Regions from separate parts of the Homo sapiens genome. Here regions 2, 3, 4 and 5 are each linked to region 1. The links come from fine-mapping of genetic effects on gene expression. A gene starts in region 1. Each other region holds a variant in brackets. All regions are shown on one strand. Distances are from middle to middle.

Region 1 (5,000 bases):
GGTGGGGAGAAACGGTGCTCTCGAGGTGAGAAAGCGCCCTGGGGTGGTCTGGGACAGTGACCATCTGGTTACAGCCTTTGGTCAGATTTGGGACCTTCATGGAACAAGGCAAGCCCAAGGTCTTGGGGGGCGAAAAATCACCACTATCTGCCAGCCCCAGGCCCAGGAGCTCCCAGCTCAGCCCCTCTGGCCAAATGCCACCTGGACACCAGCCTGGTACACTTTCCACTTAACTCACCCTTTCGCCAGGACCTGCCAACCAGGGAGAGGCCTCCCCAAGCTGTATCACCGCCATCTGGATGTAAGTCCCTAAGGAGGTCACGTGCATAGGCATTGGGCACCAGCGGACACTCTGCCCACCCTGGCGGTGAGAGGGAGGGCTCACACCAGCTTATGCCCCCCTCTCAGTCTGACTGTGTGCACCTCTGCCCAAGTCCTCAGCCAGTAAAGTCACGTCTGTGTAGCTTGGGAGTAGTTACACCACAGAAATTGGCCAATGCCAATTCAGGATTTGGTTAAGCATCTGTTAAGCATGCCCTCATGTCATCTTTGAGCCCAGCCACCCATGGTGCCTCCAAGACCTCCTCGCCATCCAAACTGCCCACTTGTCTGAGAAAGCTGCCCACCTCCCGGCCTTCCTCCTGCCTCCCATGTCCAGTGCCTGACTGCATCAGCCAGCCACCCTCACCATGTTCTGGGCTGTTACTTGGGACAGAGAGGGGACCAGCTGAGGCCCCCAGCCTTACTCCAGTGGTCAGCGCAAGCTTCCGGGAGGAGGGCAAAGGCAGAGAGGAGCAGGCAGCTGAGGAAACCACCTGGAGGCTGCATCTCATCCCCGCCTGCATTTTCTCCCATCACGCCGACTGCCTGCGGGGGCCTGTCCGCAACCTGCCCCGCTCAGCCAGCCAGCCATGCCCCATCTCCAGGTCCAGCATTGGGCCTGGCACAGAGTAAGTGCTTGGAGAACACGTTGGGGGTGTTGAGGGGTGACCAGCTCCCTAGCGGGGCTATTTGGAAACAGCCCAGGAATTCCTACACAGGGCAGCTTCTCCTCCTTCGTAACCACAGTGAGGGGGGCCGGCGTGGTGATGGGGAGATCCCCAATGCCTAATTCCACTCAGGTGACAGGTTCGGGGCCCATTTACAGCAGCTCCAACGCCCCCTTTGCAGATGGGGACAACAAGGCTCTGCTTAGCCCCGCAGGCTAGGGGCTGCACCAACTCCACCTTTGTGGGCCTCAGTCTCCTCATCTGAGAAATGGGGTTAACGAACTTCTTGGGAGGATTGCAGGAACTCAGTGAAGCACGGCTCTGCACAGGGCTGCCAGGCGGCTTCTGTCTGTGCAAGGCCACAGGCACCCTGTGTTCAGTGACCTCCTCTGGTCTGCAGCCGAGGACACTGCTCCAACCTGGGAGCAGGGCCCCCAGGGTCCACAGACTAGGTGGATGCCCAACACCCACCATCGTGTGCGGGGCACACCCCAGAGCCCGCAGGCAGAGAGAGGGGGTGCAGCACGTGCCTTTCTGTCTTGGCTGAGGGTGCCCGGGCACACACTGTGACCAGCTAGCCTGGACCTCACGCTGCCCTTGGAGCCGCTATCACAGAGGGCCAGGGAAGCCTCCCTCATAAAGGGCTTCCCTCCGGGAACCGGCAGGGTGAAACTGCTCTGCCCACTTGGAGCTAAGCATGCCACCACCCCACCCCTGGGCCACCAGCTGCCCAGGGGCGTGTCAGGAGTCACCCGTTTAATCCCTGAGGCACGTGGATCAAGGCTGCTGACCTGATTCTACCGGGGTGTGCTTGGAGGGCTGAGGCGCCGCCCGAGTCCCAACACTGGTATGGTCTGAGGCGGACTCCACCCGGCCTGAGACCTGACGCTCTGCTTTCCCCTGACCTCCACTGACATCTACGACCCGCCCTGGAGGCACGGAAGGCTGTGGGGTTCCAGCCCCCCAAACTGTGCAGCTGAGGAAAATGAGCCGTGAATGGGGGCAGAGCCAGATCCTGGGCGGGACCCTGCGCAGGATGAACTCAGGGTAGGAGGTCTCCCGCGCACCCAGAAACGGGAGCGGGTCACCCCCTTCCAGCCAGGGGTGTTCTGTGGCTCGCCTGGGGAAACAGCGGCCTCCTGAGGCTCGGCCCCGGCACGTGGCAGCCTCCAGGCCCACGTTCCCGCCGGATCGGCCGCCAGGCGCAGGGTCCCGGGACGCGCGGGCAGGGGGAAGGCGGCGGCCCTCCCGGCTGCGCGGCCCCGAAGCCGTGCCCGGAGCGGGCGGCGGGCTCGCGCGCGGACGGCCCCCCACGCGCCTCCACAAAGCGCCGCGCGCCCCCGCCCCGAGCGGGCGCGGAGGAGACTGACCTGGCGGTCCGGGCGGCGCCGGCACGACGGGTGGAGGGCTCGGGACGCGCGCGCCCTCGCGCACAGGCGCGGCCGCGGCTCCACCGGCTTAGGGCGCGCGCCGGACCCGCTGGGTCACGTGGGGGCACGGCCCAATGGGAGCGCTCCCCACGCCGCGGCCGCGCGCCCGCCGCCCCCGAGGCCGCCCCTGGGCTGGGAGGAGGCGGCTCCGGTCGCGCGGGCGGCCTCGGGGACTGACCTTGGCTCCTGTGCCTGCCGGGCGCCTAGGCCAGGTCGGCCTGGGGCAGGCGGGCGTCGGAGGGGCAGTTTTGAAGCCCGAGCGAAGAGGCAGAGGGCGGGATGCGGACGAAGCCAGGGAGTTCACGAAACTTCTGGAGTTCTCAGTTTCCCCCTAAGTCGACTGGGGCTAGGTCCCGTGCCGCCAGGCGGGCTGGCTGAGGGGATGGGCTGGGGCGACAAGACGGCAGCCGCCTGGCCCGGGTACTTGGGGTCAGACCGGCTTCGAGGCCCCCGGACCGCCGTGTTATCAGGACGGGTAGGGAGCCCACGGGACGCGTGGTGCTCAGAAGAGCGGGGAGGCGTGTGGACGGGGCCTGCCCGAGCTGCACCACCGCCTGCCTCCAGGCTGCGAGGCCCGCCCAGGCGAAGGCGGCATCTCAGCCTCTAGCCCTTGGGGACCTTGAGGACGTCCTCTTATGGGTCAGCCGTTCCTAGGGAGGCTTGTGGCTCCAGTTACTGGAAAAACCAGTGCTGGTTCACGCAGGAGGCCCCAGTACAGGGGGAAACAGAGGCAAGCTGGGGTCTCCCAGGCGGCCTCACCCACCCAGCCCTGTTCCATGCCAGTCCCTGGACCCTTGGCCCAGTCAGATGTTCAACTGCTCCAGCCCTGCCTCCACTTCCCTGAAAGATGCTTTTCCACCCATCCACCCTCAGCAGCCAGAGGGACCCCGGGAAGATGGGAGTGAGAGCTGCCTTCGTCTGCAAAAGTCTCCAGACACCACCTCACTGGTGAAGGCCAGAGACCCTAAACTGTCCCAAGACCACCTGACTGGGCTGCCTCCCTGCCACCTGGCTGCCAGCCTCTCTCAGAGCGCCTGCAAGCTATTCCTCCAACCCAGAGTTTCCTTCCCAGCTAAAGGCCTTTGCACCTGCTGTTCCTTCTGCCTGGAAGTTCACCGCAGACTATCCCAGGGCCTCCATCCTTCCCATTGCATGGTCCCCATCAGCTGCCGCCGCCTCTGAGAGCTCAGTCTCCACTGGCCATCCTGTCTCTCAGCCCACTGCACTCTCCACTCTGCCAGAAAGTCCCCCAATCAGTGACAACACAGGTCACGGTCCACACCTCACCTGGTTTGTCCCCAGTGCCCAGCATCTGGCACCGAGCAGGTGCGTGCAAATCCTGGACAGGTGGGCAAGCTGATGGTGTCCAGAGGCCCCTGGTCCTTAAGGGCAGGGGTGGGGATGGCTCAGAGGACATAACCTTGCAGACCCGGGTTCAAATCTGGGCTCCTCAGCTCATTTGGTCCTCACACAGCCCATGTTGGGAGAGCTAGTGTTCTCCCTGTTTTGCTGATGAGACACAGAGAAGGTCAGCAACTCCCGAAGATTGCCCAGCAAGTTGGGAGTAAAGCTGGTGCAATTCCCACGTTTAGCTGCTAAACAGGGTGTCCTGTACTTGGTGTGTTCAAGCAGAAATCCACACATGGGAAGGTCAAGGCAACATCCCTGGTACTCCAGCTTTGAGGTCCTAGGAAAAAGGGAACCTCCCATTAAATGCTTCTATTGCCGGGAAGTTCAGCACCTGTAAAAGCAGCCCCTTCCCGTTTCACTGTGGCTGCATTTTAATTCTTATTTTTTAAATGTTTAGCTTAAGGCCGGGCACAGTGACTCACACTATAATCCCAGCAATTTGGGAGGCTGAGGCGGGAGGATCACTTGAGCCTAGGAATTCAAGACCAGCCTAGGTAACATAGTGGGACCCTATCTCTACAAAAAATAAAAAATTAGCCAGTCATGGTGGCATGCTCCTATAGTCCCAGCTTGGAGATTGAGGTGGGAGGATCACCTGAGCCTAAGAGGACAAGGCTAGAGTAAGCCCTGATCCCGCCAGCACCCCAGCCTAAGTGAAAGAGCGAGAGCCTGTCTCAAAAAAGATAAAAAAAAAAAAAGCATTAATAAATAAATGTTTGGCTTCATCTAGCCTGAGCAGCACCAACACCCCCTGCCTGTTTCATGCTATTTTCCTCCTCTCCTGCCCAAAATCTCAGAGAGGTTTCTATCCCAGCCACCCAAATTTGCTGGGGTGAGTGGGCTCCCGAGAGGCTGGAGCCTCCTTCCTCCCCACGCTCTTACCATCCTGCAGGGAGTCGGGAGCAAAGGAGGAGGCTCCTCCATGCTGGATTCATTTCAGTTCTCAGACATTCACCGAGTGCTGACCACATGCCAGGGACTTACACCCACCCACCAAGTCCACACTGAGCCCTGCAGAGGAATCCCTGACACCCCCATTTTGCAGATTAGGAAGCAGAAGCTAAGCGAAAGCAGAATCAAGATTCAAACCCAGGCACGGTGAAACCAGAGCTGTCCAACTGCTGTGAGTGGAATGGGCCGGGCATGAACAGGCTTGGGGAGAATCCTGGGA
Region 2 (6,230 bases), 98 kb after region 1:
CGCTGTGTCACCCAGGCTGGAGTATAGTGGCATGATCTCGGCTCACTGCAACCTCTGCCTCGTGGGTACAAGCGATTCTCCTGCCTCAGCCTCCTGAGTAGCTGGGACCACAGGTGTGCGCCACCACACCCAGCTAATTTTTGTATTTTTAATAGGGATGGGGTTTCACCATGTTGGCCAGGCTGGTCTTGAATTCCTAACCTCAGGTGATCCACCCACCCCAGCCTCCCAAAGTGCTAGGATTACTGGCGTGAGCCACCACGCCTGGCCTTCTTTTTTTTTTTAATTTTAATTTTAATTTTAATTTTTTTTTTTTTTTTTTTAAGAAATGAGGTCTTGCTCTGTCACCCAGGCTGGAGTGCAGCAGTGCAATCATAGCTCACTACAGCTTGAATTCCTGGGCTGAAGCCATCTTCCTGCCTCAGCCTCCTGAGTAGCTGGGACTACAGGCGTGTGCCACCATGCCCGGCTAATTTATTACTGTTTTTTGAAACAGGGTCTCACTCTGTTGCCCAGGCTAAAGTGCAGTGGGCAACTGCACTTCAACTCACTGCAACCTCTGCCTCCTGGATTGAAGCGATTCTCGTGCCTCAGCCTCCTGAGTAGCTGGGATTGCAGGTATGAACCACCATGTCTGGCTAATTTTTGTATTTTTAGCACGGACCAGGTTTCACTGTGTTGGCCAGGCTGGTCTCAAACTCCTGGCTTCCTGTGATCCGCCCACCACAGCCTCCCAAAGTGTTGGATTACAGGCGTCAGCCACTGTGCCCTGCTAATTTTAAATATTTTTATATAGGGAGGGTCTCACCATGTTGCCCAGGCTGGAAGCCTGTTTCCTAGGGGCCAGGCTTGGATGGTGGTCTTGTCGGGCTGACCCCGGGCTGTGGACACCTTGTCCCTTTGTGCCAGAGGGGCAAGGGCTCCAGCACCAAAGCCAGGGAGCCTCTGACCTTACGAGATGAGCTCCGCACCATCCTGGGCGGTGCAGGGCTGCTGGCTGCTGGGGCACTCAAGGCCTTCAGCCTTGAGAAGTTGTTTTTTCTCATCACGTTCACTCAACCAGGGTAACCTTCCCAGGTGCTTCCAGCCTCTGGAGACCTTTCAGACTGATGTTGGGTTCCGAGTGGTCAATCGAGGGGCCTCAGTCAGTGCTGCCGTGGGGCAGTTCAGGGAGATGGAGTTGCTTGTGGAGCCGTTTACCCTGTTTTCTGCGTCCCCCTGGGTGCTGTGTTGTGGAAGTGGGTGTTCCAGACCAGCTTCTTTGCATCTTAGATGCCTTCACGTCATTGCAGAAGGGATTTCCTTATACCTGTCCCCTGCTGAGTGCGGTAGTTCCTGATAACACTTAAACTTTCAATGTTAATAGCCCTGTGATGCGCTGTTATCTCCATTTTAAAAAGAGAGAGATCTTCATGGAGGAACTGAGCCTAACTTGAAGGTGGCGGCCCTGGGAGTTCCGCCTGGTGCCCTTGGGCTCTTCCTGCCAGGACTGGGAGGTCCTGCAGAGATTGGATCCTGGTGCCTCTCTCAGGGGCCTGGGGCAGATCTCTAATTTCTCTGAGCCCCAGGGCCCCACCCATAAAGCAGGTGTGGTCCCAGCTTCCCTCCTGCTTTCCCTTCACCCACAGGGGCTGCCTTCCCTGGCTCACATGCCTCCAGCCTGTGGCAGCTCCTCTCTGACCACACAGCGCTGCTTCCTCCTGTCCAGTGTGTGTTCTCACTTCCCTCTCTGGAATGTCCACACCCCTCTGCCAACCCAAGACAGACAGGCCTGCCCGCAGCTCTCTCCTGAAGTCCAGTGGGAGGACTGTCCCCGGAGAACCTGGGGAACCTGCTGCCCCCACTCTGCCGGGTGTGAATGCTCCATTACCTGCCAGTTCCTGACTCACTTTCCTCACCTTCGAGCTGAGGCTGCCACTTGGGAGTGCCCTGGGAGCCCCCAGAGGGTTAGATGAGGCCTAGGTTTGGCATTGGCCCTTGGTGGGCTCTGCAAGTGGTGACTTAGGAGCTGATTCCCTCCCAGGGTGCCTCCCTCCCAGGGGTCCCGCACCAACTGGGCCTGGGGCTCAGCACCGCCGCTCCCCTCTCTTGTGCTGCCCTCTGTCTTCACATGTGTGTTTCTCCTGCCATGCTGGCTGGTGGCCCCCATTTAGCATGCATGGGTTCCCCGGGACGTGGGTTGCCACGTTGAGCTCACAGCCGTTCCTGCCACAGGAGTGCTGGTGCAGTTCCACTGCTCACAGGGAACTGGCTGTGAGGGGACCGCTCTGGGGAGGCCTCATGGGGCTCCACAGTCCCAGCCTTGGACCAGCAGGGACCGTGTGTCCCAGCAAGCCTCAGGCCAGCCTTGTCCCCACTGGCCATCTGCCTGCAGTGCTACCTTGGAATTGGGTTGGTGAGGCGGGGGCTGGGGTCAGGGCTGCCTCTGCTGACCTCCTGCTCTGCTTCTAGGCAGGGGCTGGCCCCGGTGCACGTTCCCTCTGCACGCACTGGTCCCTCCCGATGCGGCTTGTTCATTCACAGCAGGCGTTGACTGAGACCTGCTTCTGTCCAGCCACCCTGACCAGTCGCTGTGGGTTTTCTCAGGTGGCACATTGTCCCCAGGAAGCTCAGGCAGGGTCCCTCGGTTGGCCCTGGGGGAGTGCTATGCTAACAGTACACAGAGACCCTGGTCCACGGAGACCCTGGTCTACAGAGATCCTGGGCCACGGACTCAGGTCCTCCTGGTCTGCAGCGTGGTGTGCCCAAGGGTCTTCTTTTTGCTCCCAGCTGGCCTGAATCCCCAAACCAGATGTCTCAACCCTTGTTCAAACCATTTTTTCTCACTTTTTCTTCTGTAGATCTTTACCGCGGATGATTTTTTTTTTTTACATTTACTTTTTTTTTTTCTTGAGATAGAGTCTCGCTCTGTTGCCCAGGCTGGAGTGCAGCGACACTATCTCGGCTCACTGCAACCTCCACCTCCAAGGTTCAAGCCATTCTTGTGCCTCAGCCTCCCAAGTAGCTGGGAGTACAGGTGTGCACCACCACGCCCAGCTGATTTTTGTACTTTTAGTAGAGACGGGGTTTCACCATGTTTGCCAGGCTGGTTTCAAACTCCCAACCTCAGGCAATCTGCCCGCCTCGGCCTCCCAAAGTGTTAGGATTACAGGCATGAGCCACTGCTCCCGGTCTGTTTCCATTTTTTGATTGCAGAGAAGTTTTGTACACAGAAAATGCATTTCCGAGCATGCCTTCCCCCTTGTCCCAACACTCTAAGCTAAGCTCAAAGGCAGACATTGCCACACTGTCTTCAGTGGAACTTTGCGGATTCCACCCTGCACTTTGTACAGTGCCATTGCCGTGCATTTTATTTTCTTTTTTTTTCTTCGAGACGGAGTCTCATTCTGTTGCCCAGGCTGGAGTGCAGTGGCGTGATCTGGGTTCACTGCAATCTCTGCCTACTGGGTTTGAGTGATTCTCTTGCCTCAGCCTCCCAAGTAGCTGGGATTACAGGCACCTGCCACCACTCCTGGCTAGTTTTTTGTATTTTTAGTAGAGATGGGGTTTCACCATGTTGGCCAGGCTGGTCTCGAACCCCTGACCTCATGATCCAC[C/A]TGCCTCAGCCTCCCAAAGTGCTGGGATTACAGGTGTGAGCCACTGCGCCCGGCCGCATTTTCTTTTTCACTTTGTGGGCTTGAGGAAGCAGGTGGCTGTAGTCACAGTGAACTGCTGGCGTGCATTACGTAGGCCCACGCATCCAGCCTCAGTAGGGGGGTGGGGGAGGATGGTGCTGTCCTCGAGTCACCATGCATGTGGGTGTCCAATCCCCATTTCCGATGACTGACCTGTAATCTGGGCCCTAGGGGGTATGTAGGCCCCTTGCCTGAGTGTCCCAGAGTCAGGCATCTGCGCACTCATCTGTCCTGCAGTTTAGAGCCAGCTTCAAGGCTGATGGTTCTAGTCTTGATTTGTTAACAAGCTGATGGAGAACTTCTTAGAGCCAGCCCTTCATCAGCGTTGATAGGGTGTGGTTTTTGTCGCTGACACCTTCAGTGACCCATGAAGACTGTGTATGCCTGTGTGTGTTGTGGAGCGATGTTAGTTGCTGTGTCAGTCAGGTCCTCGTGTTACCAGGCGGCAAGTGGCACCTGCAAGGAGAGAGAGAGAGGAGGCAGTGGAAGGACTGGACCGAGGGTCGGGCAGGGCTGAGGGACACCAGCAAGGAGGGGTGAAGCCTCATGCTGCTGCTTCCACTCCAGGCCCAAGGGGCACACGGAGGGAGCTGTTACTGGAACCCCCCAAGAGAGCAGGGGTGCAGGAGCGGGCCGCAGCCTTCCGAGGAGGGACCCGAGGAGCCTGTGTGCTTGGCCAGCCTCCCGCCCTGGGCGCGTGCGGGGCTCTGTGCTCCACGGCCTCCTTGTGTGGTTCCCTGTTGGGTGGGAGCTGTGGCCATAAGTTTACGGTAACTTAGAGCCTTGGGGAGGGAGCAGAAGTCTGTGTCGGCCCACATAGCTGAGGAACCTGAGCCCAGAGTGGGCCCAGTGTGCCACGTGGCCTGAGCCCACAGCTGGATTGGCGGGCCCAGAATGCCGCGTGCCCTGGTCGGGGATGTATGCAGGTCTCCTGAGTGTGAGCCGTTTTCTCCTGTGAGAACCTGCCCCAGGTTGTGCATGGACACCCGCTTGTCTGCCGTGTGCAGCTTCGAGGCAGCTCCAGGGCGGTGAGGGGCGGGGAGTAGGGCCGTGAGGTCTGGTTTCTCTGTGCTGTGATACCTAAGTTAGCGCATGGCCTCCCAGCACCAGGCACGCAGGAGCAGCAGCTCTGAGGGCCAACGCGGTGGCCAGACCCCAGAATCTGAGGGTTGAGCGGTAGTGTCCCAGCCGCTTCTTTGAACCTAACATGCAGATGAGATGAACGTTTTATCTGGAGGACGGCCTGTGCTTTGGTTATGAAATGTGAAACCAGTATTTTGCTGTTTTTTTCTAGCTCAGTCTTTCCTTGGCTGGGTCTGTCCTGGGTTACTTTTCAAAATGCATGAGTTAACACCTATACAGAGGGTTCACAACAAGCTCACACTGCCCTGGCAAGCCACGCCAGTAACATTGACCCAGGGACTCCACTCCAGACACCACTGCTCGCCTGATTTGTTTTATTTGACAGATGCCAGTAGTTTTACCTGTAGTCGTTCATACGTTTGTCCATTCCTCTTGGATCAGTTCTAGAAAATGTGGTTTGACTGTTACTTTCTGACATCACCAAGTACGTGTTTGATGAGCTTCAGAAAATAGCTCTGTAGTGATCTGCGCTGTTACTTATAGCTTTTCCTAAACTTAGAATCTATTTTCCTTTGTTTCTATTTGCCCCCCCTTTTTTGTTTTGGTATGAACCTAAATTGCCCAACTAAATTCTGAAGTAAACTACAAAAGGGAGGACTGATTTAAAAAAAAATTATGAGAAGATAATAACCACATCACAACAAAAATTCCTTTGGCCAGTTAGATGAACGCGTGTGTGTCCCCCAGCCCTCTTTCTCCAGACTGGGCTGGTTCTCTATCTTTTCTGGGTCATGGATTCCTTTGGAGATGTGGTGAAAGCTGTAAACTTGTTCTCACAAAAATGCAAATAGATGCAATTTTGTATACAGTTTAGGGAGTGTTTTGCCAGTGCGGTGGCTCATGCCTGTAATTCCAGCACTTTGGGAGGCTGAGGTGGGTGGATCACCCCCAGCACTTTGGGAGGCCAAGGTGGGCGGATCACTTGAGGTCAGGAGTTTGAGACCAGCCTGGCCAACATGGTGAAACCCCGTCTCTACTAAAAATACAAAAATTAGCCCGGCATGGTGGCAGGCACCTGTAATCCCAGCTACTTGGAAGGCTGAGGCAGGAGAATCGCTTGAGCCCAGGAGGCGGAGGTTACAGTGAGCTGAGATCGCACCACTGCACTCCAGCCCGGGTGACAGAGTGAGACCCAGTCTCAAACAAAACAAAACAAAACAATTTAGGTGTTGTTTATGTGTGTCCAGGAAAGATCCTCCCCAGGCCCCCCCGCCACATCCCTGCAGTCTCTGGACCGTAGGGTAAGACCACACGCAGCGTGGGCTGCCTGGTCTGTCTCTGGACCCAAGGACAACGTGCTTGACCTGGTCGTTCATGGGAGCTGTGTTTGGCAGCCCTGGAGGAGGGCGGCCTGGTTTCATCCCCAGTGGAGATAAATCCCAAGGGTGGCTGTCCTCACGCCTGGGTTGTTGT
Region 3 (6,230 bases), 61 kb after region 1:
CAGGCTCTGGGAGAGCAGTGGGGCTGGGACAGAGAGGGACGAGGGGATGTGCATTTGCCGGGGTCTTGGCCTCTGGTTGTGAAGCCTGTGGTCGGGTGGGGCTGGGGGTAAGGGCCTGAGCTGAGCCCCAGGGCTCTGGCTAGGAGGCTGGGAAAGCGGTGGAGGTGCTTGTGCACACGGGTGTGCATACACACACACACACACACACTGTGTTTGCACCATTGGCTCCTGGGCAGATGCTTTTCCCCACTACCATCGTAACTTCCGTTCCCCTCCACCCTGCCAGGACATCTTTTCCCAGACTTCCCACCCCCATGCCCTTGCCCCACTTTCTCCCCATCTAAATCTTCCCAAACTGCCAGCCCTCCTCCTCCAGGAAGTCCTTCCTGTCTACTCCTGCCCCTGGGCTCCCCATTTTGGCAGAGGCTGGTATGCAGTGACTGTCCCTCCCCTCCTCAGCATCCATCCAGCACCCACCGCAGCCAGACCTGTCCTGGATCCTGAGGGCTGGGGCACCTGACATGCAGACATTCCAAAGACAGGTGGCATCCTACTGCACGTGCATTTCCTCATCTAGCCCTCACACTCTGAGTGTGGACACTGAAACAGTCCTGTTATGCAATGAGGAAACTGAGGCAGGAGGCTAAGACACTTACCCTCAGTCACAGAAGGAACTTCTGTGTCTGAAAAAGACCAAAGTCCCCCCCTGCCCCGCCAGGTCTCTATAAAACATCTTTGGGAAAGGGTTTGGCTGCCTCTGTCGTGGGATTGGGGCTGTTCACGGCCTGCCTGCGGTCTCACTCACCTGAGTCCTCTGTGGGTCCCTGCACACAACCCCAGGCTTTCCTCCAGCCCCTCCTCTCACCCCTCCCCTCCAGCTCCCCTCGGCTGCTTCCTCCTCCTCTTCCCTCCCACACTCCACACTCCTGTCCATCCTCGGTGCAAAGACATGAACTTGCTTCCCACGGACCCTGATCCCATCCCCTCCGGGCCCCACCTTGACTTCTCTAGATCTTTTCCTAAATGAATTCCAGGGAAGGATTGGGAGCTGGTCTCATGGTGATGGGCTTTGCTTCCTTTGCCCAGTGCTATCACATTTCATCTTTGCAGTGACCTGGCTTCATCCAAAGTACCAGGCCCAGCCCCTCCAGCCTCACCTCCCTCCACCAGCCGCCCCTTTCTCTGGCTCCAGCCCCTCCCTCCCGCCTCCAGGCCTGCCCCAGGTACACGCTCTCCACCCATCTCCTCCTTCACCTGCTCATCCCCTGCCCTCCACAGGTCCACTGAGACGCTGCTTGTTCCGGCAGCCATCCTGACCTGCTCAGTCTCCCTGATGATCCTTTGCAGGGGCCGTTCCCTCTGCCTGCAACACCCTGTCCCACCCCCCTTCTCCGGAGGCCTGGCTGTTTGTGCATCAGCAGGGGAGATGATCCAGATGTTCCAGATGGTCCAGAAATGCCATTCTTCTGGGCTAGAAAAGAGAACTGGGTAGGAGTCTCTTCTGTGGGGCCAAACCAGGTGCCAAGCCCATGAGTCCAAGGATGGCATCTGCTCAGAGGAGGGGATTTTTCTAGTTCTCAGGAAGGGCTGTAAACCTAGAGGCGGGTGCTGGCACAGTCGCCCCGATGCCCAGGGGCACACTTCAGCCCTCCCGGCACACCCTTCCCTGCTCTGTGCCCCCCTTACTAGAGATCAGTGTAAATACTAGCCCAATTATTTATTGTCAAACTAAATAGACAGGCTCCAGACTCCGGCAGGATCTTCCCATTGAATTCTCAAGAACATATTTTTGAATTATATCTTAGTATCCCATTTGATAAGAGGACACTGAGGCTCAGAGAGGTGAAGTAACTTGCTCAAGGGCACACAGCCCATTGTGACTGAGCAGAGCTCGAATCCAGAAATGCGGAAGCCCAAGGGCAGCCTCCCTCCCGTTCTGTCAGCCGCCTGGTTTCATCCAGCATGCTTACAGGGACCTGCTGCCCCCACCTGGGTTAGGGGTGGGCTCTAAAGATGATCAGGGTGCTCCTGGCCCCATCATCACATAGGCAGGGCTCCATCCTGCTTCTGCCACAAGTTGGGTGACCTTAGGCAACCTACCTAACCTCTCTGAGCTGCTGCTTCCTTTTCTGCAAATGGGTTACTGGGATTTATCCTGCATAAACAAGACATGTAAAAAAAAAAATCAAAAGGCTCAGGACAAAGCCTGCTGCACAGAACACCCTCAGTAAGTGTCAGCTTCAGGCAACAGCTCATGACTGTGTGCTTAACGCTGGAAAATCAAGGAGTGTTATAGGACCAAAGAAATGAGGCCCCACTGGTGAGGTTTCAGGCACAGTGACAGCATTCAGGGGGGTACAGGAAGCCCCACAAAGGCCCTGAGGCCCAGGGCCCTTCCCGGCAGCAGGTCACCAGGAAGCAGGTGAAGGGGTTATGGGCCCTGAGGATAGATGACCTGTTGCTGCCCATTCTTGTGGGGGTAAAGCGCTCCCCTCCCCCCAGGGAGTTTATGGTGAGCTCCCCTTTCTGCTTGGTCCTGGCCTGAGCATCTCCCTGGCATGGTGGTACCACTGCTCTGTGCCCTGACGCCTCTGCCCAGACCTCGGCTGCAGGGCCCATGTTGCAGAGAATTACTCCCAATTCCATAGACGGTCCTGAGGCCAAGAACAGAAGCAGGTGCTGGCCCAGCACCCACCTCTTGTCTGCATCCTTTCCCAGACCCCCTTCCTTCCTCCACACACCCCGGTCATGCCCACCCCGGGGTCCTTGGCCGCACAGCCCTCAGTGTTAACCCAGGACCTAGGCCCTGAGG[A/G]CTGAGCTCATGGTCTCTGCAGAGGTCCCAGCAGGCAGGCAGGCTGGACACTATTCCCGGTGACAGCTCAGAGGTCAAGCAGGTACCCCCGGCCACACGGGCACAGGAGTGAAGTCCTGCAGGCTCCCCCTCCCCTAAGCTTCCGGCCAGTGCCCCCACCCCAGCTTTGGCTGGGCCTCGAAGGCTTGGCGGAGCCCCTGCGAGATGCTGCTCCCGCGGAGGACAGGAGGAGGGCTGTCCCATTGCGGTGGGTTCACTCCCCTGCCACTTTATTTTCCCAGAAAGGCAAAAGACACCTTGGGATAGGACAGTGGGATGGAGTCTGATGTATTTGAAATTGGAAGCAAAAAACCCAGCTCCCAGGGGCTGGGAGAGAGGCCGAGGGCAGTGGGAAGGTGGGGCAGGGACACACCAGGACGCAGGAGTCTGCTGGATCATAGCCAAGTGCGTGGGGCCCACTCAACCAAGGAAGAGCAGGGGGACCCAAATTAGGAACTCCCTTGGGAGGGGAGCAAGCACTGGAGAAAGCCCAGCCTGCCCTGCTGCCCTCCGCATCCCTGCAGGCTCCTGCCCGGCTGCCCTCCACGTCCCCGCAGCCTCCTGCCTGGCTGCCCTCCGTGTCCCCGCAGGCTCCTGCCCGGCTGCCCTCCGTGTCCCCGCAGGCTTCTGCACCTCTAGCTCACACCACAGGCTGCCCAGGTGGGGACCTGAACTCGGCTCTTCTCACCCACAACCTCCTGCACCAGGGCCAGCAAATGCTGCCCCTCCTGCTGTTCCCCAGCTTAATTCCCAGCTGAAAACAGAGCAAAGGCATTGGCAAGACCAAAGCCACTTGTTTCCCAAGGACCTGGATTCTGAAGCAGGTGCCCAGGTGTACGGCCACACTGGACACCCTCTTGATCCTCCCTGGAGCTGAGCTAAGGCCAAGGGCTGGCCCCAGCCCTGGCTGCCTAGTAACTATGCCCAGAGGCCCAGCACAGAAGGCGTAGCCTGCAGAGGCGCTGGGCAGAAGGACGGAGCCCTGAAAGTGTGCAGAGGACACACTGCCTGCGGGCAAGCGAGGCTGTGGGACTAAGTGAGCAGTGCAAGGTGCACCGCCTGCCGGCAGCCCTGGGCAGGGACCCCCATCCATCTGCTATGTGCTCCCCCAAGGCCAACCAGGTGTCTCTGCTGGAGACAGTCACAGTTTGTGATCTGTTTAACTGATTAGTGTCTGCTACAGACTGCCAGCTCCAGGAGGGCAGGGTTCTGTCCTGTCCCTTCCAGCTGGACCCCCACGTCCTAGCATAGTGCCTGACGTATCACATGAGCTCGGCCCATATTTGTGAGAAGAAGAGGAAGAGGGAAGGAGAGGCAGGCACCCCAGGGCCGACACGGAGGGCAGGTTGGAGGGTCTGGGAAACTTATTCAGAAGATGGGCCTGGAGCATGAGTGAGTTAGCCTCCACAGCAGCTCAGGGTTTGAGTCCTGAGAGCAGAGTTCAGCGCAGGTGAGAAAAGGCCACATCCCAGGAATGAGGAGCTGGGCCTGACACTTTCCTACGTGGCCACGGACGGCTCTCCTTTAGGGACCACGTGCATTCGCTGCCATCTCTCTCTGGCCCTAGAAGGGACGAACACCCCGATACCTCCATTTTCACAGAGGAGCAGCGGGAGGCCCAGAGGTGAAGGTCCTCACCAGGCGTGCAGCTAGGGTCTGTTCCTAAACCTGTCCTGTGCTGCCCCAGGTGCGGACAGGGGCTGAGGCTGAAGCAGAAGCCGGCCTGCTTGCCTGCTCTGTGTTCCCTGAGAACCCTGGCTGTCTAGTGGGGGCAACCCTGGCATGCCCAGAGACCCCACGCTGTGGTGGGGGAGCCCCTCACAGGCCCAGGCGCAGGTGCATGTCCTCCCTGCCCCAGAGGCCCTCGCCTCCTGCCGCTGCTGGGGGCCGCCCTGGCTGAGCGCCCACCAAAGTGTGAAGTGCTTCCCGAGGGAGTCCATGGGGAAGCCCCAGCCCCGCCTGCTGTGGCTGCATCAAGGAGGCGGCCTTCCTTCCGGGCCCATCGCCTGGGCCTCTGGGGTCAGGCCTCGGGTCACCCTCCGGCTGGGACAGGAAGCCTGACATGAGTCTGGAGTTGGGGGTAGGGCAGGGCCGGGAGCCAGCCCAGCGGGATGGGGATGCCGGCTGTCTGGGCAGACACCGGCGGGGTCAGGGAGGAGGCTGGGGTAGGGTAGCTGCCCTGTGACCTGCCCCCCTGGGATGCCGCAGAGCCCAGGCCCGCTGCTTCCCTCCGGTGCAAGCTGGGATGGGCTGGCAGCTGAATGGAGGGCCAGGAACCCCACCACAGCTCCAGGCCAGGCACCATCATTCCTGCCCTGGAAAAGGGCCTCCTTCCAGCCTCTCTGACTCTACTCCGGCCACCACAGCCCGATGTCCACGTATGTGTCATCCAAGACTGCGGCCTGAGTCTCATCCAAGATGTCATACAAGACTGCAGCCTGTCTTCTGAGTACATGAGGTGCAGCCAGTCCGAATTGAGTTGTACGGTAAGCGTGGAATATGTCCCCACCTAGTATGAGACAGACTGTGAAATATCTCATTCATAATTTGTTATATGAATGACACGTTTAAATAATATATTGGATATATTAGGTTCCATAAAATATATTACTAAAATAATTTGCATCAAATTCTTTTTCCGTTTTCCTAACGTGGCTGATAGAAAATTAGAAATTATTCACGAGGCTGGCATGAGATTTCTAGTGGAGAGTGCTGTCTCTGTGCCGACAGAGGGAGTGTCTCCAATCTAATTCACACCAGTCCCTTCCTTGCTTAAATAAAGCCCATCAGGTCAGGGGAAAGTCTCCCATGTCCGGTGTGGACTTCTCCCAGGACTCAGTCTCACCTCTGCCCACCAACCCCACTTTCCAGCTGCCCCGTGGTGCCACATCTTCCAGCTGCCCCCGTGGTGCCACATCTTCCAGCTGCCCCTGTGGTGCCACTACTGGGCCTCTGCAAGCTGCTCCTTCTCTAGGAGTGCCCTTCCCTAACCCTGTTTCCTCCTTTGTCTAGGGATGTCTTCTGGGCTTTCACAGATGCCTGGAGTGTCACCCTTTCTTCAGTGCTCCCAAGCCCACCTCCCCTGTCCACCCCCAGCAGCCCCTGCCTCAGCCCCGCTGGCTTGGGCTCCAAGAGGCGGGGCACCGTGCCGGGGTCAGGGGATTGAGTAACTTGCCTCGGAGCATCAGTTTGCTCATCTGTGAAACAGGTGCCCCATTCACGGGACCCACATCCCAGGCAGTCACTCAGCTCAAGTGAGGTCATCTAGACAGCCCCCTCAGGGCTGCCGCACAGAAGGGAATCTTTGGCTGGAGGATTAAATGTCCAGGTCGCCAAGCTGGCCACCCTCCTGAACAGAGCTGGTGAATCTTGAAAGAAA
Region 4 (6,230 bases), 67 kb after region 1:
CGCAAAGGAGAAAAGATTTACTCCCTGGGCCCTTCCCGAAAGAGTTGGCCAACCCCTGCCTTAGGTAATCCTCCAACCCCTTGGGTGGGTGCTATTGGCCAAGGGGGAAACCGAAGCACAGGGGGGCTAAGTGTGTCCCCCGAGGGCCCCGGCCTTCAGCTGTGCTCCTACCCATCATGATGCCTGGTGCCCGCCCCCATCCCCAGGACCCAGAGGTCAACTACAAGTCCTGCTTTTCCCGCCCACCTCACACCCGGTCTTGGTGTTGTCTTGTTTTGTTGGCTGTGTGCCGTGTTTAGGAATCACTCACACTCACCGGAGGCCCTCGTCTTCTGGGCGTCGCTCCGTGCCTCGCACACATCTAAACAACCTTAACAACCCCCTGTCACCTGCCGGGGCTGCCAGAACAAAGTTCCACTCGCTGGGCGGCTGAAACAACAGGCATTTATTGCCTCACAGCTCCGGAGGCCAGAAGTCTGAAATCAAGGTGTCAGCAGGCTGGGTTCTTCCGAGGGCCAGAGGGAAGGGTCCGTTCCAGGCCTGCCTCCTTGGCTTGCAGAGGGCCATCCTCTCCTTCATGTGGCACATCTGTCTCCAAATCTCCCTTTTTCCAAGGACACAGTCACATTGGATTAGGGCCACTCCAACGACCTTATTCAACTTGATTACCTCTGTGGAGACTCCCTCCAAATAAGGTCACATTCTAAGGACTTCAGTTTGAATTTGGGGAGTCACAGTTCAACCCACAACACCCCAAGAAAGAAACTCTCCACCCCATTTTACAGATGAAGAGGGCTGGGACCCCTGCTTCAAGTGGGCTGGGGGCTGTAGCCCTCCCTGGAGAAGGAGGCTCCGGGAGAAGGTGGCTCCCAGCCTGGTGGGGTGAATCAAGTTTACCAGGGCAGTTGTTGCAGCTACATTTCAAAATCTGGCCCTTGCAACAGCCTCCTCCTCCTCTGCCTCCTCCTCCTCTGCCTCCTCCTCGACTAATTGACCTCAGGCATCCACAGGGGTATCGATGTCTCTTCTCCCGGTCCCACCCCACCTGGGGAGCAGCCCTGGCACCTCCAGCCCTGCCGCCCCACCCCCGGTGGGCATATTCTCAGCTCAGCCTGCTGCTGTCTAGCCGTGTGCCCCAGCAGGCGTCTCTCTGAGCCCACCTGTGAAATGGGTGTGATGAGGCTCGAGTGAGTTCGTACCGTAGCAGGAAACCCCGAAGGAAGCCCTGAGCCCTGGAAGGAGCTTTGCGGGAAGCAAGCTGCCGGAGACCCCACCATAGGCAGTCACAGCCATCTGCTGAGCTCCGGGGTGAAAGCTGGCAAGCTGGGGAAATCTCTTTAGTGCTTAGGGCACTCCTGCAGGGCTGGACTCGCCTAACGGCGGGGTAGGCAGAGTAGGACTGGACCTCAGGCTGCCAGGCTGGACCAAAGCTTCCCCTCCTCCGCCCCTCCTTGTCCCCCCGGCCCCTCGCCCTCCCTGGCCTCCAAGTCCCCACCGTCTCCAGTAAGGCTGTCCAGACGTCTGTGTCTTGAGCTGGTCCCAGCGTCTTTGTTCCTGCTCTGGAATAGGGATGGCTGAGAAAGCATTTGGGAGGGGCGCTGCGTTTTAGTTTAGATTGGAGGGCATGGGAGCTGGGCAAGGCCGGGCGGCATCTGACTGAAGGAACAGTGTGTGCGAAGAGGCCAGAGTATGGATGACCTTTGACCCCAGGCCCTCTCTGGGTCCTTGCCCCCGCCACCCCCACCCCCGCCTTCTGTGGCTGCAGCCCTCGAGGGGGCTGGCAGCCTTAGAGGGTCTCCAGGCCTTGCTGTTTCCGCAGCGCTGCTCCTTCAGCCGGGAACGCCTTTCCATCTTTTCCGTCTGCAGAGACCCTGCCCGCCCCTTACCTCCTGGCCAGGAGTCCAGCCCCCGTGTGCCCTTCACGTCCCTGGGCCTCAGCTTCTTCATTCACAAAGTGGGCTGATCCTGTCCTTGCCGCCCCTCGTGGTGGGGGTTGGTTGTAGGGTCGGCAGAGCCCCTGGGAGTACAATCCTCTGTGAACCGCAGGTCCCATGATGTGCTATGTGTGTCGGGGCCACGGCAGGTGGGGGGCCTCAGACCCCAGCATGGCAGGCACCACGTGGCAGCTTGCTCAGCAGCCCCAGGGCCTCCGCATCCCCCGGGGGGTCGCGTAGCAGCAGCCACACCACGGGGCGCTGCTGGGGTCAATGCCGAAGGCCGGTCGGGCTCAGGACCGAGGCCGGCTGTTGTCTCTTGGTTTTTCTTCACTCTTCTGGGTTCGACATTGAGGGACTGCCACGTGCTGATGCGAGAGCCCCCTCTCGCCCCCAGAGCTCGGAGTCAGAGCTGGGGCTGTGCTTCCCGGGGTGTCATGCTAGGTGACCCAGACTGAACGCTTCTAGTTCCCCAGCAGCTTCAGGGAGCCTGAGAAGCTTCCGGAAGGAGCTCACTCTCAGGGGTGCTATGGCCTTGGGGCTGAAGAGCTTGTGTCTCATTGCTGCCGTCTCATCGCTGCCCCCTTTATGCAGGGCCTATCACCCCCTCCTGCAAGGCCTGTGGTCCCGTCGGGCTGCATTCCCTGTCATGGGTGAGGAGACTGAGGCTCGAGGCGAAGGCTCCTCCCACCCACTGTGGGCAGAGTCCTGGAAGGAGCACAGTGTTCTTGAAGGAGCCTCCAGGGATGAGCAGAGACCTTATTCAGGTGACCCCAGGATTATGGCAGATGAGTGTCCTGGAGCCACCTGAATGGGGGATCAAGACCCCCCAGCCCCACCAAGTCAGCACCTCCTATAGCAGGCTGGCCTTCCTGGAGCCTCCATGTGGCACCACTTCACCCAGGGCCACCCATTAGTCCCCTGTTCCAAGGGCCCATGAGGTGGGTACTGCTGGTGTTCCCACTATACAGGTGAGGAGACTGAAGTAGAGCCCAGTGCTTCCCAGTGGCCAAGATTGGAGCCAGGATTCCAGCCCAGCCCTGGGGCTTCTGAGCTGAGGCCCAGGCCCCTCCACCACACCCCACTCATGGCAGCGAGGGGAGGGAGGGTCCCCAGACTCCTCGACAGGAGAGATACGTGAGGCCCAGAGGAGCGCAAGGCCTTCCAGAGGGCTCCAAGCATGGCGAGGACAGACTACACCCTGGACCTGCACAGCTTCTGGTGGCTTTACCCTGGGGAGCCCACAGCCCAGGCAC[G/A]AGACTTCTGGTCTTATGTCTGCTGCAGGCCGGTCAGAAAGACTCTGTGCCTTGGAAGGCCCTGGGTGGGCGGAGCAGCCATGTTTAAGGTGGGTGGGTTTTGTTCCTCGCTGGCCTGCCACAGACCAGGCTCTGGGCTGGGCACCAGGACGGGATGGACAGCCTTAGTCCCTGCAGAAGTCACCATGGCGTCATCACGGAGGCCACTGGGAGGTGGGAGCTGCGCATCAGGGTCCTCCCCTGAGAGGCGTCTGTCCACCTGATCGGTGCTGTGCGTGCAGGCGGACACTCAGGAGCCTGCACACAGGACTCGCCTGGTCAGCGAGGCCCACATTTCCAAACCCAATGGGCCCACAGGACAGTGGCAAAGAGGGTGTGGCTGGCATTCCTTGCAGAAAGGAGGGGACTCCTCGAGGGGCACCTGGAGACACATCCCAGAACAGCCGCTGGACCGAGAGCCAACAGGGCGTCTGGCACAGGCAGATGGAGCATCAGCCACTAACAGGAGGACAGGCGGGGTGGCCTTGGCTCTCAAGGACCCCCACTGGGGCCCAGGCCAGGGCAGCAGGAAGAAGGGGCTTTGGTCCAGCGCCTGGCCAGTTCCTCTTTCTCTGAAGCTGTTCAAACCCTTAGGCCCAGGGCAGACTCCCTCAGGAAGACGTGAGTGACAGACAGAAACATGTGTCAGACAAAAGGGGCAGGGGACAAAATGAAAAGCAAGACACCCTGGGGCTGGGGCATGGGACACTGAGGGACTGTGTGTGTGAGCAAAGGACAGGAGGGGTGTGTGTGTGCCTGTGCAGTGGGGCACACCCAGCGGGGCAGGATCCGTGGGCACACATAGACCAGCGGGACAGTGGCAAAAGGGGAGTATGGGACAGCCGCCGGCATGTGCATGTGGATGTGTACATGTATGTGCATGCACACGTGTGTGAGCCTGTTCACCTGCAGTCTGAGGCAGAATGTGGGCATGCCTGTGCACTCTCAAATCCCCATCTGGTGCCCCGGTGGCCCCCACTCAATGGGCTACAAATCTGTCTCATTGGCCTCAGAGAAGCGAATGCTCACAACAACCTATACCAGTGCCATGTGCTATACACATGGGGAAACTGAGACACAGAGCAGGGAAGCAGGTTGTCTGATGTCATAGCTTGCAGAGAGTGGAGGGGACTCCAACACCTGGATCCAATTGTGCCTGTGCCCTTTGACCCCACCCCAACTTGGGGCCAGGGTAGCCAGGATGCAGCCTCCAGGTGGGCCTGGGGTTCATTCATCCATGAAGCCAGCCCCTCATGGCCCTGGAACAAGGGGGCTGAGCTGTGGTGTGTGTCACCTGCTGGGCCAGCATTCAGAGCAGAATCCATGACCCTCCCGGGCCTCTGTGAGGGGAGGTCACGGCCGAATGTTGTAGATGTGGGAAGTTGGCCTCAACCCTCCATGTGATCTCCCCCAGTCACAGACCGGGCTCCCTGGACATGCCTGCCTCCCACGGTGGCTGTGCACCTGCCCTCACCCTCGAAGCTGGTGGGGCTGAGGCTTTGCCTGGAGACCCAGGAGGGTCAAGCCCAGGTCCTCAAACCCATGTTCTCTGGAGACTAAGGAGGGTATCCCAAAGGCCCAGACCCCCCACGGCTAGGGGCCCCCAGCCCAGCTGCGACCGCAGAAGTCCCTGCTCTGGGAAAGAGCAGGTGGGGAGGGCGTAGCCTGAGGGTGCTCCAGGTGTGGGGTGCCAACAGGGTCAAACCAACCTGGCAGGTTGAGCAAGAACTGGGTTAGTCTCGTTCATTTCTGTACCCCACCCCTGCAGGATGAGAGTGACCTTATTACCGGCCTTGAGGACAGCCTGGGGCAATGGACAGAGGGGCCAGGGCTCTGCCTTCCCCTAACGAGTGTCCAGGCCACTGGGCCACGCCCAGGCCCATTTATGCATCGGTAAAGGGTGATCAGAATATGGCCCTAAAATTGCAGGTGGCCTCAAATGAGCAAGGGATGAAAAGTGTTTAGCATGGAGAATGCTCCATAGATGTCAGCTGTCATTGGTCATCGAGGCTCAAATGGCATCATGGTTGTGAGAGCAATGGGGTCATACCTGTGTCAGGAACCTGAACAGGAGTTGAGTGGGGAGCAGGGGGTGAGGGGCCCCACAAATGCCTGGTCACCTCTGAACTCAGAGATGGTATACTCCCACATCCAGCCCTTTGACCAACACAAGGCTCCAGTCTTTTTATTTTGTATTTTATTTTATGTATATTTATATTTTTATTTATCTATTATTATTATATTTTGAGACAGAGTCTCACTCTGTTGCCTAGGATAGAGTATAATGGCACGATCTCTGCTCACTGCAACCTCTGCCTCCCGAGTTCAAGTGACTCTCCTGCCTCAGCCTCCCAAGTAGCTGGAATTACAGGCACCCACCTCCATGCCTGGCTAATTGTTGTACTTTTAATAGAGATGGGGTTTCACCATGTTGGCCAGGCTGGTTTCGAACTCCTGACCTCAGGTGATCCACCTGCCTTGGCCTCCCAAAGTGCTGGGATTACAGGTGTGAGCCACTGCGCCCAGGCATTTTTTGTATATTTTTATTTTATTTTTAATTTTAGTTATTTATTTACTTATTTTTGAGGTCGAGTGTTGCCATGTTGCCCAGGCTGGAGTGCAGTGGTGCGATCTTGACTCACTGCACGCTCTGCCTCCCAGGTTCACGCCATTCTCCTGCCTCAGCCTCCCGAGTAGCTGGGACTACAGGCACCCACCACCATGCCTGGCTAATTTTTTGTATTTTTAGTAAAGATGGGGTTTCACCATGTTAGACAGGATGGTCTCGAACTCCTGACCTCGTGATCCACCTGCCTCGGCCTCCCAAAGTGCTGGGATTACAGGCGTGAGCCACAGCACCCAGCCCTTAGGTATATTTTTAAATTTTTAGTACAGACAGGGGTCTCACTTTGTTGCCCAGGTTGGTCTTGAATGCCAGGACTCAAGCGATCCTCTCACCTCAGCCTCCCAGTGTGCTGGGATTACAGGCATAAGCCACCGC
Region 5 (6,230 bases), 52 kb before region 1:
GTATTATGATGTGCGTCACGCAATTTGTCAGTTTTAACAGCTCTCCCCAAGGCAAGTCACTTAAAAAAAATGCCACTTCTTCTCATCTTGCCTCCGAATTCAAATGTGCACGAAGTTCCTTTTTTATTCAGTTCAACCATGCAAAATGCATGAATCTTTCCTAATAAGCTAATAAAACCTTCTCCTCCCGGAACGTGGGAGGGTTGGGAGAAAGCCTCACCCCGTCTGCTCCTCCCCCTGCTGGAATGTTCTTCCCCCAGCCATCCTGTCTCTGCAGGCTCTGCTCACCCGCACCTCACTGAGGCCTCCCCCACCACCCTCCAAAATAGCAGCCCCTTCGGCGCCTCCCACCCTCTGCTGCTTTATTCTCGCCGCAGCCCCGCCATCAGCTACCATCTGTGATCTGCGCCTTTTACCTGCTTTACTGCCCTCACCCATAGACTGGAAGGTCCCGAAGAGCCAGAGACATCTGTCTGTCTCTCGCGGGCTCCCCATACAGCAAGGACGTCTGTCTGTCTCACTGGGGGCTCCCCATACAGCAAGGACGTCTGTCTGTCTCACTGGGGGCTCCCCATACAGCGGGAATGTCTGTCTGTCTCACTGGGGGCTCCCCATACAGCGGGAATGTCTGTCTGTCTCACTGGGGGCTCCCCATACAGCGGGAATGTCTGTCTGTCTCACTGGGACCTCCCCATGCGGCTGAGACATCTGTCTCTCGCGGGTTCCCCCACCAGCAAGGACGTCTGTCTCTCTCAGGCCCCTCATACAGCTGGGACATCTGTCTGTCTCGGGCTCCTCATACAGCTGGGACGTCTGTCTATCTCTCTTGGGCTCCCCATACAGCTGGGACGTCTGTCTATCTCTCTTGGGCTCCCCATACAGCTGGGACGTCTGTCTATCTCTCTCGGGCTCCCCATACAGCTGGGACGTCTGTCTCTCTCGGGCTCCTCATACAGCTGGGACGTCTGTCTGTCTCTTTCGGGCTCCTCATACAGCTGGGACGTCTGTCTGTCTCTCTCGGGCTCCTCATACAGCTGGGACGTCTGTCTCTCTCGGGCTCCTCATACAGCTGGGACGTCTGTCTCTCTCGGGCTCCTCATACAGCTGGGACGTCTGTCTCTCTCGGGCTCCTCATACAGCTGGGACGTCTGTCTGTCTCTTTCGGGCTCCTCATACAGCTGGGACGTCTGTCTGTCTCTCTCGGGCTCCTCATACAGCTGGGACGTCTGTCTCTCTCGGGCTCCTCATACAGCTGGGACGTCTGTCTCTCTCGGGCTCCTCATACAGCTGGGACGTCTGTCTGTCTCTCTCGGGCTCCCCATACAGCTGGGACGTCTGTCTGTCTCTCTCGGGCTCCTCATACAGCTGGGACGTCTGTCTCACTGGGGGCTCCTCATACAGCTGAGACATCTGTCTCTCGTGGGTTCCCCCACCGGCAAGGACGTGTCTCTCTCTCGGGCTCCCCATACAGCTGGGACGTCTGTCTGTCTCTCTCAGGCTCCCCATATAGCAGGGACTTCTGCCTCGCGCGGGGCCACGGGTGGTTTCTGCTCAGGCCGCTCCGGGCAGGTTCTCCTGGAGCCCTGGAGGTGGCCCCGGCAGCTCCCGCAGCCCCAAGAGAAAAAACTCTCACCACGGGCACAGTCCTGGGCTCTGATTGGCCTAGCTTTGCTCACATACCCAATCCTGAACCAATCACCTTGGCCACAGGGGCCTGTGCGGCTCTGACTGGCCAGGCCTGGCTCCCACGCCCTCCAGGGAGCGGCATGGGCCCAGGCCTCTTCGACCACCGCGAAGGGGCCCAGGCTCCGGTTGCCAAACCAGCAGCCATGCCACCCAGCACCACCACGGAGCCAGGGAGAAAGGGAGGCCTGAGAGCAGAGTGACACCCAGGTGTATCCCGGTGGCTCACGGTCTGAGGTCCCTGCCAGGCTGCTGTGGCACTGTCAAGGTGGGGACAGGGGCCCAGAAGGACAACTGGATGAGCAGTGCTGAGTAGCCACTCTCTCTGCATGCCCAAAACGGTGGGGGCGGCACAGGACACCATGGGGCAGCAGGGGAGTCTTGAGGCCTGATGGGGCCAGCCCTGGGCCTCTGAAGTTCTCATGTCCTGCTTAGATGGACAGGCCTCTGGGACCAGGAAGCAGCGAGTGGGGTTGAGCAGGGCACCCTTCCCTGGGCAGGACTGCAACAGGTGCTGCCAGGCCTGCCAGAGGGGCCTCCCTCTCCCCTGCTCCTCCACTAACAAAGCCTTTTCCTTAGAGATGTTTCCTGCGTTGGTCAGTTCTCAGCTGGGTCCTCCTCCAGCCAGTCTCCACCCTGCCCCACAAAGGAATTCTCATTGTTCTCACACGTCATCCATGTGGGCCAACTCTATTTAATTCAAATGGGCTACATCGTTTCTCTTTATTTCGAAGGCACTCATCATTCTCACCCTCATCTCATCTTCATCTTTCCCTCTGTCCCCTGGGGATTTGGGGCCAAAGGCTTGTGATCAAAAGAAGAGGAGGAACTTCACACCCATTAGGTTGGCTACTGTCCAAAAAAAAATCAGAAAATGAGTGTTGGCGAGGATGTGGAGAAATCAGAAGCCTTGTGCACTGTTGGTGGGAATGTAAAAC[G/A]GTGCAGCTGCTTTGGAACAGAGTATGGAAGTTCCTCCAAAAATTAAATATAGAATTACCATATGGCCCAGGAATTCCACTAATGGGTGTACACCCAAAAGAAAGGAAAGCAGGCACCTGGGACAGATATTTGTACGCCCTGCTCACAGCAGTGTTATGATAACCAAAAGGTAGAAGCAACACAAGTGTTCATCAATGGGTGAATTAGAATAAGCAGTGTGGTCCATCCATACAATGGAATACTATTCAGCCTTGAAAAGGAAGGAAATTCTGATGCTACAACATGGATGAACCTTGAGCACATTCTGCTGAGTCAAATACTGTGTGAGTCCACCTACTTAAGGTCCATGAGTAGCCAAATCTACAGAGACAGAAAGTAGAATGCTGGGTGCCAGGGGCTGGATGGAGGGAGAATGGGGAGTTAATGTTTAATGGGGACAGAGTTTCAGTGTGGGAAGATGAGAATGTTCTGGAGATGGATGGTGGTGATGGTTGCATAATATTATGAATATGCTCAATGCCACTGACCTGTACACTTAAAACGGTAAATTGTATGAGATGTGCATTTTACCACAATTAAAAATAAAACCAGAAGAGGAGGAGGTAATGGGAGAGGGAAGAGGGTCTCATGGACCCTCAGGCTGGGGAGGAGTATGGAAAGCAGAGGGGCTTTGCCTCCTCTTTCTCAGGTGCCTTTGCCCTCTCCGGGGCCAGAGTGGGGAAAGGACGGTTGGTCGAGTATGGGGCAGGCATCACTGGGATGCCAAGTGTCCAAAGAGGCTGCAGGCAGGCAACGACGTTGAGACCAGCAGGAACGGAGGATGGTTCCTTGAGTCCACAGCGAGGCAGAGACTCAAGGGGCTCCACCTTCATCGGTCTTGGGACTGCGTATGGATTTCAGGAGACACATGTCCTTGAGCATTGCCGGGGGTCCTGGGCTGGAGGTGGTTTTGTGTTCTATGGACCTGCAGGGGAGTTGGGCATGGATTCCCAAGAATGCTGAATCAGCCCATCTTTCTGGAAGCCCTGCTGGGGCTGCAGGGACAAGGCAATCTTGAAGAACAAGCCAATACAGTGCCCAAGAAGTCACAGGACCAGAAGCTTCTGGAGTCCTCCCAGAGCAAACAAAATGCCACTCCCCCCACCAAGTCCCCTTCTTCTGAAAACCATTGTCGCATTATGGCTGAGACCAGTGACCTGGAAAATGCTGCCTTTTTTTATGACACAGCTTGGGGTGAGAGGACAAGCCAGCTGGCATTTGGATTGGCACTGTCAGAACTTTCACGGATGGCATTTCATCATTTGACACTTGGTTTTGCAAATCTGCTCAGAAACGTGCCTGGTCCAAGCTGACAGCCTCGTCCAGGCATGCTCACACATCCAGGGTGATGCACTTACACTGACCGAGCACAGGGGCCGGGCCAGGGGTGTGTGGCTGGAACAGTGAGACAGGCCAGCAAGCCAGGGCCATCTCATGTTTCATGGGCCTGCATTCTGGGGCTTTCTACCTGTGCCCCAGGGACTGCGTTCAGTGACAGTGACATCCTGTGACAGTGACATCACTGGCAGGTTTGGAGCCAGGGCCCAGCTTGACCCCACCTCTGTGCCCTTGCCCAGGCTGTGTGACAGGACTGCTCCCTCCTCTGCTGAAGGACAGCGACAGTAGAGGGCCACCTCAGGCTGGGCAGGTGAGGCACCATCCATGGTACCTGGCAACTACCAAGCACACGGTGACACCACAAGCCGTGCACTCACAAGCGAGGGCCGGTGCCGTGGGTTTCTCCGTCACTCACAAGCAAGGGCCAGTGCCGCGGGTTTCTCCGTCACTCACAAGCGAGGGCCAGTGCCGCGGGTTTCTCCGTCACTCACAAGCGAGGGCCAGTGCCGCGGGTTTCTCCATGTCCTCTGAGGGCAGGAGTCTCAGGAGTGGAGAATGGACACTTCTCTGGGCTCCGCTACGCCACACGCCCTGAGTCTCCCACGCCCTCGCCCGCTGCTACCCTCCATACTCTTGGCCCATATTTAAATGCTGCCATCCTTGAGCTGAAGGGCAGGTGCCCTTCAGCAGAGTGCCCCTCCCTAGAAGGGCACCCCCTGGTCTCCTGCCCAAGCAAGGCCCGGGGTCTGACTGGGCACATGCTGCCTCCCCATGCTCGGCCCGGCTCCGCCAATCCTGGGTCCCAGCATTTCCGCGTAAAACAGGGCAGGAGGGAGTAGCCCCAGGGGGCCTCAGTGACGCCAGGCATAGGAACCAGAACGTGCCTTTCTATCTGGGTCAGGTGGGCACCCTTCCCAGGGCAGGGGGTGGCCCAGGGGGCTGCTTGTGGCCTGAGGCAAGCCCTAAGCCCCCTCTGCTCAGCTGCAGCACGTCACTGGAGGCACTGAAGAGCCTGCTGTCCACCACGGGGCACTGGCATGACTTTGCCCACCTGGAGCTGCAGGGATCCTGGGAGCTCTTCACCACCATCCACACCTACCCGAAGGGCGTGGGCCTCCTTGCCAGGTACGGTGGGGCCAGGGCAGGTCGAGGCAGCCTGCTTCAGGCCACGCCCATCCAGGGGACTGGGTATCTGGACTGCAGTGACAGGACACGGCCCCCTGCCCCCGGTCACAGGCACACGCTCAGAGCCTGTTGATGCAGTGTCTTCCCCCGGCCCTCACCCTGGCCTGTGACCTCCTAGGGAACAAGGGCTGTGCCTGCTTCTCTGTCTCCTGCATGTCCAACCCAAGCCTGGCACGCAGTGGGCAGCCAGTGGGTGGAAAGGAAGTGGGAACGTGCCTGCCACGTTGGGACCCTCCGGGATGCCAGCCCTGATGAGATGGGTGGGGGCAGGAGGGTGGGCTCTGAGCAGTGACCACCAGCCCAGGCCCACCCCTGCAGGGCCATGGTGCAGAACCACTGCAGGCAGATCCCAGCGGTGCTGCGTCAGCTGCTGCCCAGCCTGCAGAGCCCACAGGAGCGTGAGAGGAAGGTGGCCATCCTCATCCTCACCAAGGTAGGGATGCAGGCCAGCAGAGAGCACCTCAGATGTCTGAGCCTCCTTCTCCAGCCTCCTTGACACCCCAGCAGAACCCATGCCAGAGCTCACCCTGACTGGGGAGGCTGCCCAGACGGACCCCCTCGTACTCCTGCCTTCCCACTCCCAGCCCTTGGAGGGGGGCTGCACACTTTGGGGACCTGTCTCCCCACTCGGCCCTCCCTGGCACAATCCCTGCAGAGTTGCAGGGGCACTAGGTGCAGACTCAGGCAAGTCTAGGCTCCAACTTCAGCCCTGTCCTGCCTGTGGGACTCAGGGTAAAGCCAAAGGGGAATGGGTAGAAGCAGATGCCGCTGGGTGTGGCACACTTTGCAGCTGTGAGCTCAGGCAGGGGTGGGACTGGGGCGAGGAGGGTGCTGTTTCCGTAACTGACACTAGTAGGGGAACCCAAGCGAAAGCCTCATGCCAGCTCCCACCCACCAGCTGCCTAGGCCGCCCTCCATGGGCGCTCTACCCCCAGGTGCCCCACAAGCTCGGCTCTTGATAAAAGTGAGGCCTTGCCTCGCTGTGTGACCTTAGGCAAGGCCCTTTCCCTTTCTGGGGCTCAGTTTCCCCAGCTGTACATTGAGGG

What was found. PIP is the estimated chance that this variant, and not a neighbour inherited with it, causes the effect. A credible set is the group of variants that fine-mapping cannot tell apart.
Region 2: its variant is the best candidate, but not a certain one, in a credible set for the expression of PTP4A3 in whole blood (TOPMed, PIP 0.73).
Region 3: its variant is the best candidate, but not a certain one, in a credible set for the expression of PTP4A3 in whole blood (TOPMed, PIP 0.65).
Region 4: its variant is the best candidate, but not a certain one, in a credible set for the expression of PTP4A3 in whole blood (INTERVAL, PIP 0.61).
Region 5: its variant is the best candidate, but not a certain one, in a credible set for the expression of PTP4A3 in whole blood (INTERVAL, PIP 0.82).

What each region holds. Positions count from the first base shown.
Region 1 is chr8:141,389,444-141,394,443 of GRCh38, reverse strand. It overlaps PTP4A3 (protein tyrosine phosphatase 4A3), which reads right to left and starts at 2,423. Exons shown (of 6, transcript NM_032611.3): 1 at 2,360-2,423. It overlaps ASTILCS (antisense transcript of PTP4A3, liver carcinoma survival associated), which reads left to right and starts at 1,823. Exons shown (of 2, transcript NR_187488.1): 1 at 1,823-2,036; 2 at 3,293-4,576. RefSeq lists an enhancer at 2,731-3,351.
Region 2 is chr8:141,290,594-141,296,823 of GRCh38, reverse strand. The region is part of intron 1 of SLC45A4 (solute carrier family 45 member 4); the gene reads left to right. Among named protein-coding and RNA genes, the nearest start is that of SLC45A4, 15 kb to the left of the region's middle. The variant C/A (reference allele first, on the strand shown) is at 3,597.
Region 3 is chr8:141,328,242-141,334,471 of GRCh38, reverse strand. No RefSeq gene overlaps it. Among named protein-coding and RNA genes, the nearest start is that of LINC01300, 9.2 kb to the left of the region's middle. RefSeq lists enhancers at 4,294-4,828, 4,829-5,365. The variant A/G (reference allele first, on the strand shown) is at 2,813.
Region 4 is chr8:141,321,338-141,327,567 of GRCh38, reverse strand. No RefSeq gene overlaps it. Among named protein-coding and RNA genes, the nearest start is that of LINC01300, 16 kb to the left of the region's middle. RefSeq lists an enhancer at 3,042-3,542. The variant G/A (reference allele first, on the strand shown) is at 3,191.
Region 5 is chr8:141,440,530-141,446,759 of GRCh38, reverse strand. It overlaps LOC105375789 (a long non-coding RNA gene), which reads right to left. Exons shown (of 3, transcript XR_928722.3): 1 at 1-6,230. It also overlaps MROH5. Among named protein-coding and RNA genes, the nearest start is that of ASTILCS, 51 kb to the right of the region's middle. The variant G/A (reference allele first, on the strand shown) is at 2,622.